Regions from separate parts of the Homo sapiens genome. Here region 2 is linked to region 1. Evidence: fine-mapped expression QTL. Tissue or cell type: whole blood. Region 1 holds a variant in brackets; the other region holds the start of a gene. All regions are shown on one strand. Distances are from middle to middle.

Region 1 (4,356 bases):
ACCATCCTCCCTGACCCCGCTTCTTGAGTCATGGATTCCTGGAGAGGCTGGGATCCTGGAGGGTCATTTTAGTGAAGCTTTAGTGATTGTGAAAAACCCAAGTGACTCTGGCTAGTCTTAAGCAAACGGGGCATTTATTTGAAAGATGCTGAGCATCCATCTCAGTGAGTCCAGGAAAGATCCAAACAGGCAAGATCAAATAGCTAGAACAGGACAGCCAGAGCCACTCCTGTGGGTTGGGAGGACAGACCCCAGGCAGGAGGCATCCCCCACACACAACCCAGTGGCTCCCACTACGTGTCCCAGTCCCGGCTTTTCTTGAGGACTCTCTTCTAATGGCAGCACCAATTCCTGTCCCTCCCCTTCTCCATATCTGTTTCACTGCCAGGTCCTGGCTCCCCAGCGATCTCGAGATCTCAGGGAGATGAAAAAGTAGATTCTTACCACAAAAAGGTCAGGGATTCTTGAGCCAAAAACAATGAGTCCCATTGTCTGACCACGTAGAGGGAGAGAATGGGTGGAAGAAATGGGTTGAAGGGGTTGGAATACATCTATTTCTGGATCTTTTGGGACTTGGTACTTTTGGTATAAACAGAGTATCCCTTGTATATTTAAAATTGGTGAATTTTACCACACAAAAACCAAACATCCAAAAAACCAAACAAAAAAAAAAACCTCCCGTAAAGAAACCCCTCAGATTATCCCTAGTTCTCTTGGAAGGCATAATTGCCGTGAAATCCCGGCCCCCAGTGTGCAGTGCCAAATTACAGAGCAAGACTCCATCAAAAAGAAAGGAAAGAAAGGAAGAAAGAAGGGAGTGAGGGAGGGAAGGAAGGAAGGGAGGAAGGAGGGAAGGGAAGGAAGGAAGGAAATTTGTTCAGTAGAATATAGTTAATTGGAACACGTTTAACAGCTCAACTGAATAACACCTATTTTGGCACATTTACTATGTAGCAATGCTAACTCTTCACTATAATAGTAAGAGGTAGATACTCTGTCATCATCCTGATATTTTACAAAGACGTCAAGTAAATTGTCCAAGGTCACACAGATGCTCACTGGGTTATTCTGTTGTGGGAATCTGGGGAAAAAGCTCAGAGACTAAGTGATCCCAAGGCATAGCTACATGCCAAGATTGGGGTAGTATGACATTATCTTTTTCTCCTTACTTGTATTGATTGTTTGCCTTTTTCTCAATACCACATGTAGAATGTGATGTTTCAAATTTTGCAGGGGAAATTAATGAAAGCTTAAGGAGAATCATGAAGAGCTCACTCACTGAGACAATTGAAGCATCCTTAAAGAAATGAACACTTTTTGTTGTCTGTGTTGAGTCACTGATGTCTAATCCCCTTTAAACCAAACCCTGTACTCAGTCTTTTGTGCCCAGGTAAGAGTTGTTGATTAAAGTGTTTGCTGTTTGGGGGCTAACATTTTCTTGTCAAGCTGGAAAATTTGTGTTTTTGCATGTTTGTTTTGAACATGAAAGAGAAAGCGCTGTAGTTGGGTGGCAGGTGCTTATCTGAACACTTCCCCTCTCTCTCTCTCTGGCTCTCTCTGGCTCTCTCTGTCTCTCTCTCTCAAATTAATTATATATGAGCTAGAGGAAGTTGCTATTCACAGGAATAACCTGATAAATCCTCCAGGAAAGACTATCAACCTGACTTTCTCTTTTCGGTAGATCCGTTTTTGTTGTTGTTTGTTTATTTCTTAGTGTTAGGCTTGATTTACGTGAAGTCCACTAAAAACCTTGGAAAAGAGAGCATTAC[G/A]TCTGGGTAGTTCAGATCTTGTTTTAGATGTTGAATGTCTGTGATAAATTTGTAAGAGGAGGCTGGCTCCTCTGGAGCGTAGTTTAAACTGCTCCTTCTGTTTCCTACTCCTTCGTTCCAGCAATTCTTTGTAAATTTAGATGAGGAACAAAACCTTCCTCAAATATTTCTCCAAAAGAACTACACATTAAGTAAATAGGTTCTACAGATAGGACTGCCAATGCCAGGTTTTAAAGTTAGTTAGGAAGGTGCATCTATGAAATGCTTACACAGTGTGAGGGAGCAGGAATAGGAAGGGGCTGGGATAAAGGGAGACTAGAGGCACATTTGTCTTCATTGATACAGACCCAGAGAAGAGGGGCCTGAAAATGGAAACTTATTTCCCTCCTTCATAGTGTAAGCATAGCATTTTCCTCTACCAGCCCTACTATAGTGTGAATGTTTGTGTCCCCTCAACATTTGTATGTTGAAATCCTAACCTCTAAGGAAATGGGGCCTTTTGGGAGGTGATGAGGTTGTGAGGGTGGACCCCTCATAAATGAGATTAGTGCCCTATAAATAGGCTCAAGGGAGCTCGTTTGCCCCTTCCACTGGCGAGGAGACAGCGAGAAGGCGCCATCTCTGACCCAGGAAGAGGGCCCTCACCAGATTCTGCATCTGCCAACATTCTGATCTTGGACTTCCCAGCTTCCAGAACTGTGAGAAATGAATTCCTGTAGTTTGTAAGCTACCCAGTTTATGACATTTTGTTATAGCAGCCTGAATAGAGTAAGACACTACCCTAAAACTTGTTCAGTTTTTAGAAGATTCAGTGAGAGCCAAGTTTTCTTTTCTCACTGTAATCATAGGGATTGGTTCATTAGGTAAATTAAGAAAATGAAATTAAAAATTAAAACAGAAAAGGAACTCCAAAAACAAAAACAACAAAACAAAATTCATTTATCCTCTTCTTAGAATTTCAGCCAAATAAAGGTATATCCAAGTTGAACCTCCCAATCTAAAAATCTGAAATCTGAAATGCTCCAAAATCCAAAACTTTTTGAGCACCAATATAACACCATAAGTGAAAAATTCCACATCTGACTGCATGTGGCAGGGTGCAGTCAAATGCATTCGAAACTTTGTTTCATGCTCCAAATTATTTAAAATCATGTATAAAATTACCTTCAGGCTACCTGTATAAAGTGTATATAAAACGTAAATGAATTTCGTGTTTAGACTTGGGTCCTATCCCCTATCCTGAAGATACTTCATTGTGTTTATGTAAATATTCCAAAATACAAAAACAAAAACCAAAACCCAAGTTTAAAATACTTCTGGTCAGTCCCAAGCACTGAAGATAAGGGAGACTCAACCTGTATCACAACCAGCATTCCACCTTGGCAAGGCCAACAGCAAGCTTAAATTACATATGCTAATATGTTCTCAGTCTCTCTGAAACTATGGTTGTCAATTTGTTGTTTTGATGTTACCTCTAAGTAGTCATCAAAAGTAAGAAAATATTGTGTTACATTAAGGTTACGCTATAAGTCTCAGGAGAGGGCTGCTTACGTAAGCAGCTAAAGGAAAGCAGCACTAATGAATTGGTATCCCATTTCAGTTATTGTTAAAATATACACCATGACATTCAATATTCAGTGTTTTTTGAAATGGTTTAAGCATAACTCTTTAATAAGATCTTAAATGCCCATTCTTATTTAAAGTCATTTTTGGTTTTCACACTAAATTACGCTTTTTTTCCCTTTACTTTTGCATCTATTAACTCTATTCCTTAAATTATTATTATTTTTACTTTTGTTTCTCAAGGAGTTATCTCAATTTTGAGGAATCATGCTGGGGCAAGGATTGCAGTTGAAGTATTTTGCTTTTGGAGTGTATAATAGTATGAATAATTTTGTGATGTTTTGGGGTTTGGATTACTTTGGGAAGATCTGTGTCATTAAACATCATAAAAAGAATTCCCATCTGTCTTGCTTCAGTTTATAATTCCTTTCTTGATTTTTATGGTTGCAGATCTGTCAAAGCCTGGAGCATATTTTATGGGCATGTTTCATGGGGTCTTGGTTTGCAGAGGCTCCTAAGAAAATCTCCTTTGTGGAACCTAGGCCCTCCAAACAAAAGCTGCTGTACAATGAGGCCAGTTCTCTGTGGTCACCTGACTGACCCAAAGTTAGCTGAAGCCTGTAGGCCATGAATTATAAAAGAGATTTTTAAAAAATGAGAGTGCAAATGATATGTTTGACATAAAAGAGGTGGCGGGTTTTAGGTGTAATTTGAGAAGACTGATGGGTATGTGTGTGAGTTCAGCCCTAGCACCCAAATGCCAGGCTACTCTCAGTATAGCCAGTACTCCCCTGAGTTGGTCCATCAAAGGAGCCCGCTGGGCTCTCTGGAGGGCAGCCTGAGGAACAGGATATGCTCTGTAGTCCATGCTGTGACCAGAGAACCCACTAGTACCACCGGATGGGACTGCTGTCTTTCTCTGGTTAGGGGACCCCTCCTAGCACTACTTAGCGGACCTGCAGGTCTTAGGGAGACCTCTTCTCTCTTCCCTTGTGCTGGGAACCCTGCCAACAGTGATGAGAGC
Region 2 (4,169 bases), 67 kb before region 1:
TACTCTCTGGAAATAGCAGTTGTTCATTGAAATCTGTTTGCTGCCACCAAGAGGTACCTACCCAGGTAATAAAGGCTTTCTCTTGAAGTGGTGACAGTCCAATCCTTAAAAGGCTTTGTTGGCCCCCGGCAGAGGTGGACAGCCTCAATGATAAATAACTTTGCAAGATGAGTGAGAGGGACTGGGTGTGTATAGCAACTGCCACATCTCCACAGCAGCTGAGAGCCTCAGGTAACCATGGCGGGGACAATTAGGAGAGTGTGAAGTATCCCCATCAACTCATTTAATATCACCATAGCAGATTTGCAGAAGTAGCTGTGCCTGGTCCTTTCTAATTCTGCAGATTTCTTTTACCCATTGTGATGGGACCTCTCTTTATCCATGTACATTAACCCCCACAGATTGGCTTGACCATCTCTGCATTTAATATTCAAAAATATTTATTATCTTCTATCCTATTTAGGGTATAAACGCTTAGCCATGCAGAGTTTACAGATTAAGGAGACAAATAGTAATCAAGAGTCACAGGAACAAATGTAAAACTGCTATTATGGCAGTCGCTACAAAGAGGAGATATATATATTTATATGTATGACATAAGATATGATATTGAGATTCCACCTTGTCAGCAGAAGAGAGGTCTTGGTGGGGTATGTAAATCTGTATACATGTGTTAATCAATGTCTGCAATGGATGACACTCTAAGTAAAGGGTATAGAGTGAGGAAAGGAAAGGACCTAGAAACATTGCTTAGCCAGAGGAGGATAAACAGACAAAGAAAGAATAGCCAGAAAGTTGGAGGGAAACCAGAAGAGAGCTGTGCCCTAGCAGCCAAGCAAGGAGAGTCCAGTTAGATCAAGAGTTAAGACTAAGAAGAGCATAGAATGGAACATTGTGTCTCTAGAGATCAACAGGATGTCTATATTGCAGACCCAGTGATGTGGTAGGGCACACCTGGATTCAAATGTGGCTGCTCCCTTATTAGGTCTGTGGCTTTTAGTAAAAGGCTGTCTAGCTTCAGATTCTGCATCTGTAAAATAGGGATAATATCTCCCTGATAGAGTTATTGTAGGGTTGAGATGAATTAGCATACGCAATGTGCCTAGCACTTTGCAGATCCTCAGTAAAGACTGATTCTTCTCTCCCAATACAACTCTGGCTATTTATTAATTTGTTTTGCTTGTCACTCTCCTTGATTTCTTAGCATTGGTGTTGGTGACCTACCTGTTAGGATCATCACAGGTCCTGTCCCACATCACTCTGGGTGTCAGCAAGTTGTGAGTGACAAATCAATGATCTGGACACTATAGATAGTTAGGTGCCCACCTGTATCTCTTGATATGCAGAGAGACACAGCACTAGGAACTGGATAAGGATACAATATGCCCTTCTTCATCATACCAAGTTTTTCCCTTCCAGGGAAATAAACTCCAGTTACCAAAATGAATACCCAATCTTGTCTTGACCATCCTTCTGCACTATTTCCAATTGTATAACTCTCTAATGCAAAATATTAGTAATAAATGACTGAACATAATTTAGGATTTAAAATTTTTTTTTCAGAGGCAGCATTGGCCTTCCTAGATTTTTTGGATTGCTAGAAGGAGCCACTACCTGCTCCTTTCCTTCATTTTTCTCTATTAGATGTAGTGAATGTCCCCTACTCATTCAGAACTCTTGCTCTGCGCACCACCTCTGACAGTGTTTACAGTAACTGTGGTTTTGGCAAATGCAATAACTACCCATTGGACTACTCAATGCTTGCCTTAAACTAAACCCCAGAAAAGGCTGGACACCGTTATGGAAAGACTGACATATTTCTATTGCTGCTAACAGGGGATACCTAACTTTTAAATATGTTTAAGAATTAACCTTATATTTCTAATTAGCACACGTTTGTTATTGACGGTGGCCATGTTTTCCGAAGCAAACATAACATTTAATAAGCAAAAGAGTATTTTTAGGAACAGGCAACTATATTAAATGAGAATTGTTACAGAAACTACAAGGCTTGGGGTCGTGCAGCTACTAAACGTGTACTATTTAAATTATAACAGACCTATGATCTCATTCTACTTTCAGAATGAAAACGGTAAACATTCTGACATGGTAATTGGGGATAGCAGGAGCTGATGGAAAGAAGATCGGGATTGTTAGCATTTCTCTATCCGTCTAGCACGCCAGACAGGGCCAGTCTCTCCGGCTGGGGGCACTGCGTGGGCAACAGCGACCGTGAGGGCGCGCGTCTGCGCTGGGGCCTCGCGCGCGTTCCACGATGAAGACTGCGCGTTTGAGTGTCCCTGGCAACGCCACGCTTCCGCCTTCTGGAAGCCTGCACTCCAGCTTCGAGTGTGAGAGACCCGTCCCGGTGGGAGGGACCTGGGCTGGGGGGGACGGTAGGGGAACAAGGGCGTGGGACTGGGGAAGCTTCTGGGAACATTTGCTCTAGGTATTCAGCTAAACTAAGAAAAATTGGTCCAAGGCTCGGCACAAAAGGATCTTCTCATTCCAGTCCTTTCGCCCACGCAGGGAACGATGCCTCTGGAGGTGGTGGTGGAGCTGCAGATCCGGGCGGTAAGAGATCGATGAACTCCCCCTCCTTAACCTCAAGTCGGACTCTAAATAGTCTCAGGTGGTTTTCAACAACCCTCCCCCACATCCCCCACTTACCACAAACACATCATTATCTTCTGGGACAGATCGCACCTTTGTCTTTTTCTCCATATTGGTTTTCCCTGACTTCCTAACCTTTAATTCAGCTCCACCTGTTCCCACTTTTTTTTTTTTCTGTTCTAAAGCTAACATGTTTCTTATCTTTATCATGAATTTTTAATTTCTTTTCAAACAACCCTGCATTAAGTCCAGGTAGAATTTATTTTCTTCTCCTGGATAAAGATTTGTGAAAGGATTTTCAACTTCTTTAAATAACCAGGGAATAATTTTAAAAAGCTCCATCACTTCCTGATTATTTGCCAACTCTATGAACCAATCAGATATTTTCTATGATATTTCCCCTTAGTGATAGCTCTGGCTTGCTAATTCCAAAAGGGAAATCAATCAATCACTATTTCGTAATTACCAAATCCTTCCTAAGTGAAGTGCTGTGGCAGAGTGACTCCATGGTTTCTACTTGGGGGTCTGTCACTCCCTCTTATTTCAGTTTCCATTTTCCAATCCTTCCATGTAGTTAGTAACAGAATATCATGCCGCTTTTCCTCTAGGGGCTTTTCTACTGGCTATGATTACAAGCACAGTGCTAACAGGAAATTGTCATGGAATCTGGTTGTCTTCCATACAATTGGCAAATGGTGTGGTTTCATCATACATGTGGGTGTGAAAGGTGATCAACATTTCCTGGATTTGTCCCACTTTGCTGACAGCAAATAGGGCTAGACCTTATTAGTAGTGCTATACCAGTTTTAAGCTCTAAAAATTGTGCAGGAAGAAGGAACTCTTGAGAAGCTAAGTGATAAATCTGTCTCCCTCCTCATCAAGGCAAAAATTAAGCAAGTTTTCATCTCACTTCATTCACCATTATTTGTTAATTTTATTTTGATTTTTAAAAGGCATTATTCAGTGTACAATTAACAAAGAAATCAGTTTTCTACTCTACTGTACTTAGGATGCTTCAAAAACATCAGGTGAAATGATCTATGCTTTAAGAGCCAGAAAACTCAGGCCTCAGCAACTAAAACAGAGAATTCCAAAATTGTAATTACAAATCAGATGGTAAGCCTAATTTCATGCCCCTAATATTCAGATTTGTGGACACTGCAAGAGGAAATATCATTTGCTTCCAAATATCTGGCTTGAATATTGCTGCAGTTAAAGGATCTCGCTAAGGTTAAACAACAAACCCAAACCACTTAGAGCTTCACAGTTTAGCTGCTTTAGCAAGTGAAGAGGTAGTCGGTATTCAGGATGCTGTGGGAATGCAAATGATTTGATTTTGAGGCATGGCTGTTCCTTTTTCACTATGCCCCTCACTCTGAACAAGCTCATGCTTTCACTCAATCAAAACCTACTTATCACAGCCGTTCTCCAGGTTCCGAACCTCCGTATGGCAGATCAAAGTCCATAATCATTTCTATTTATAAATGCCAAAATAGTCATTAAGATTATCTGAGGACATCACTTCCATAGGTAATTTAAAGGATTTCTTTTCAGGT

Evidence for each region. PIP is the estimated chance that this variant, and not a neighbour inherited with it, causes the effect.
Region 2: it holds the start of SPATA6L, and the variant in region 1 is fine-mapped to the expression of SPATA6L in whole blood (TOPMed, PIP 0.98).

Annotation. Positions count from the first base shown.
Region 1 is chr9:4,597,687-4,602,042 of GRCh38, reverse strand. SPATA6L (spermatogenesis associated 6 like) reads left to right here. Exons shown (of 12, transcript NM_001353486.2): 12 at 1,234-3,727. Among named protein-coding and RNA genes, the nearest start is that of PLPP6, 62 kb to the left of the region's middle. The variant G/A (reference allele first, on the strand shown) is at 1,770.
Region 2 is chr9:4,664,617-4,668,785 of GRCh38, reverse strand. SPATA6L (spermatogenesis associated 6 like) reads left to right here and starts at 2,306. Exons shown (of 12, transcript NM_001353486.2): 1 at 2,306-2,574. The coding sequence starts at 2,536. PLPP6 (phospholipid phosphatase 6) reads right to left here. Exons shown (of 1, transcript NM_203453.5): 1 at 3,528-4,169. RefSeq lists silencers at 2,378-2,457, 2,468-2,517.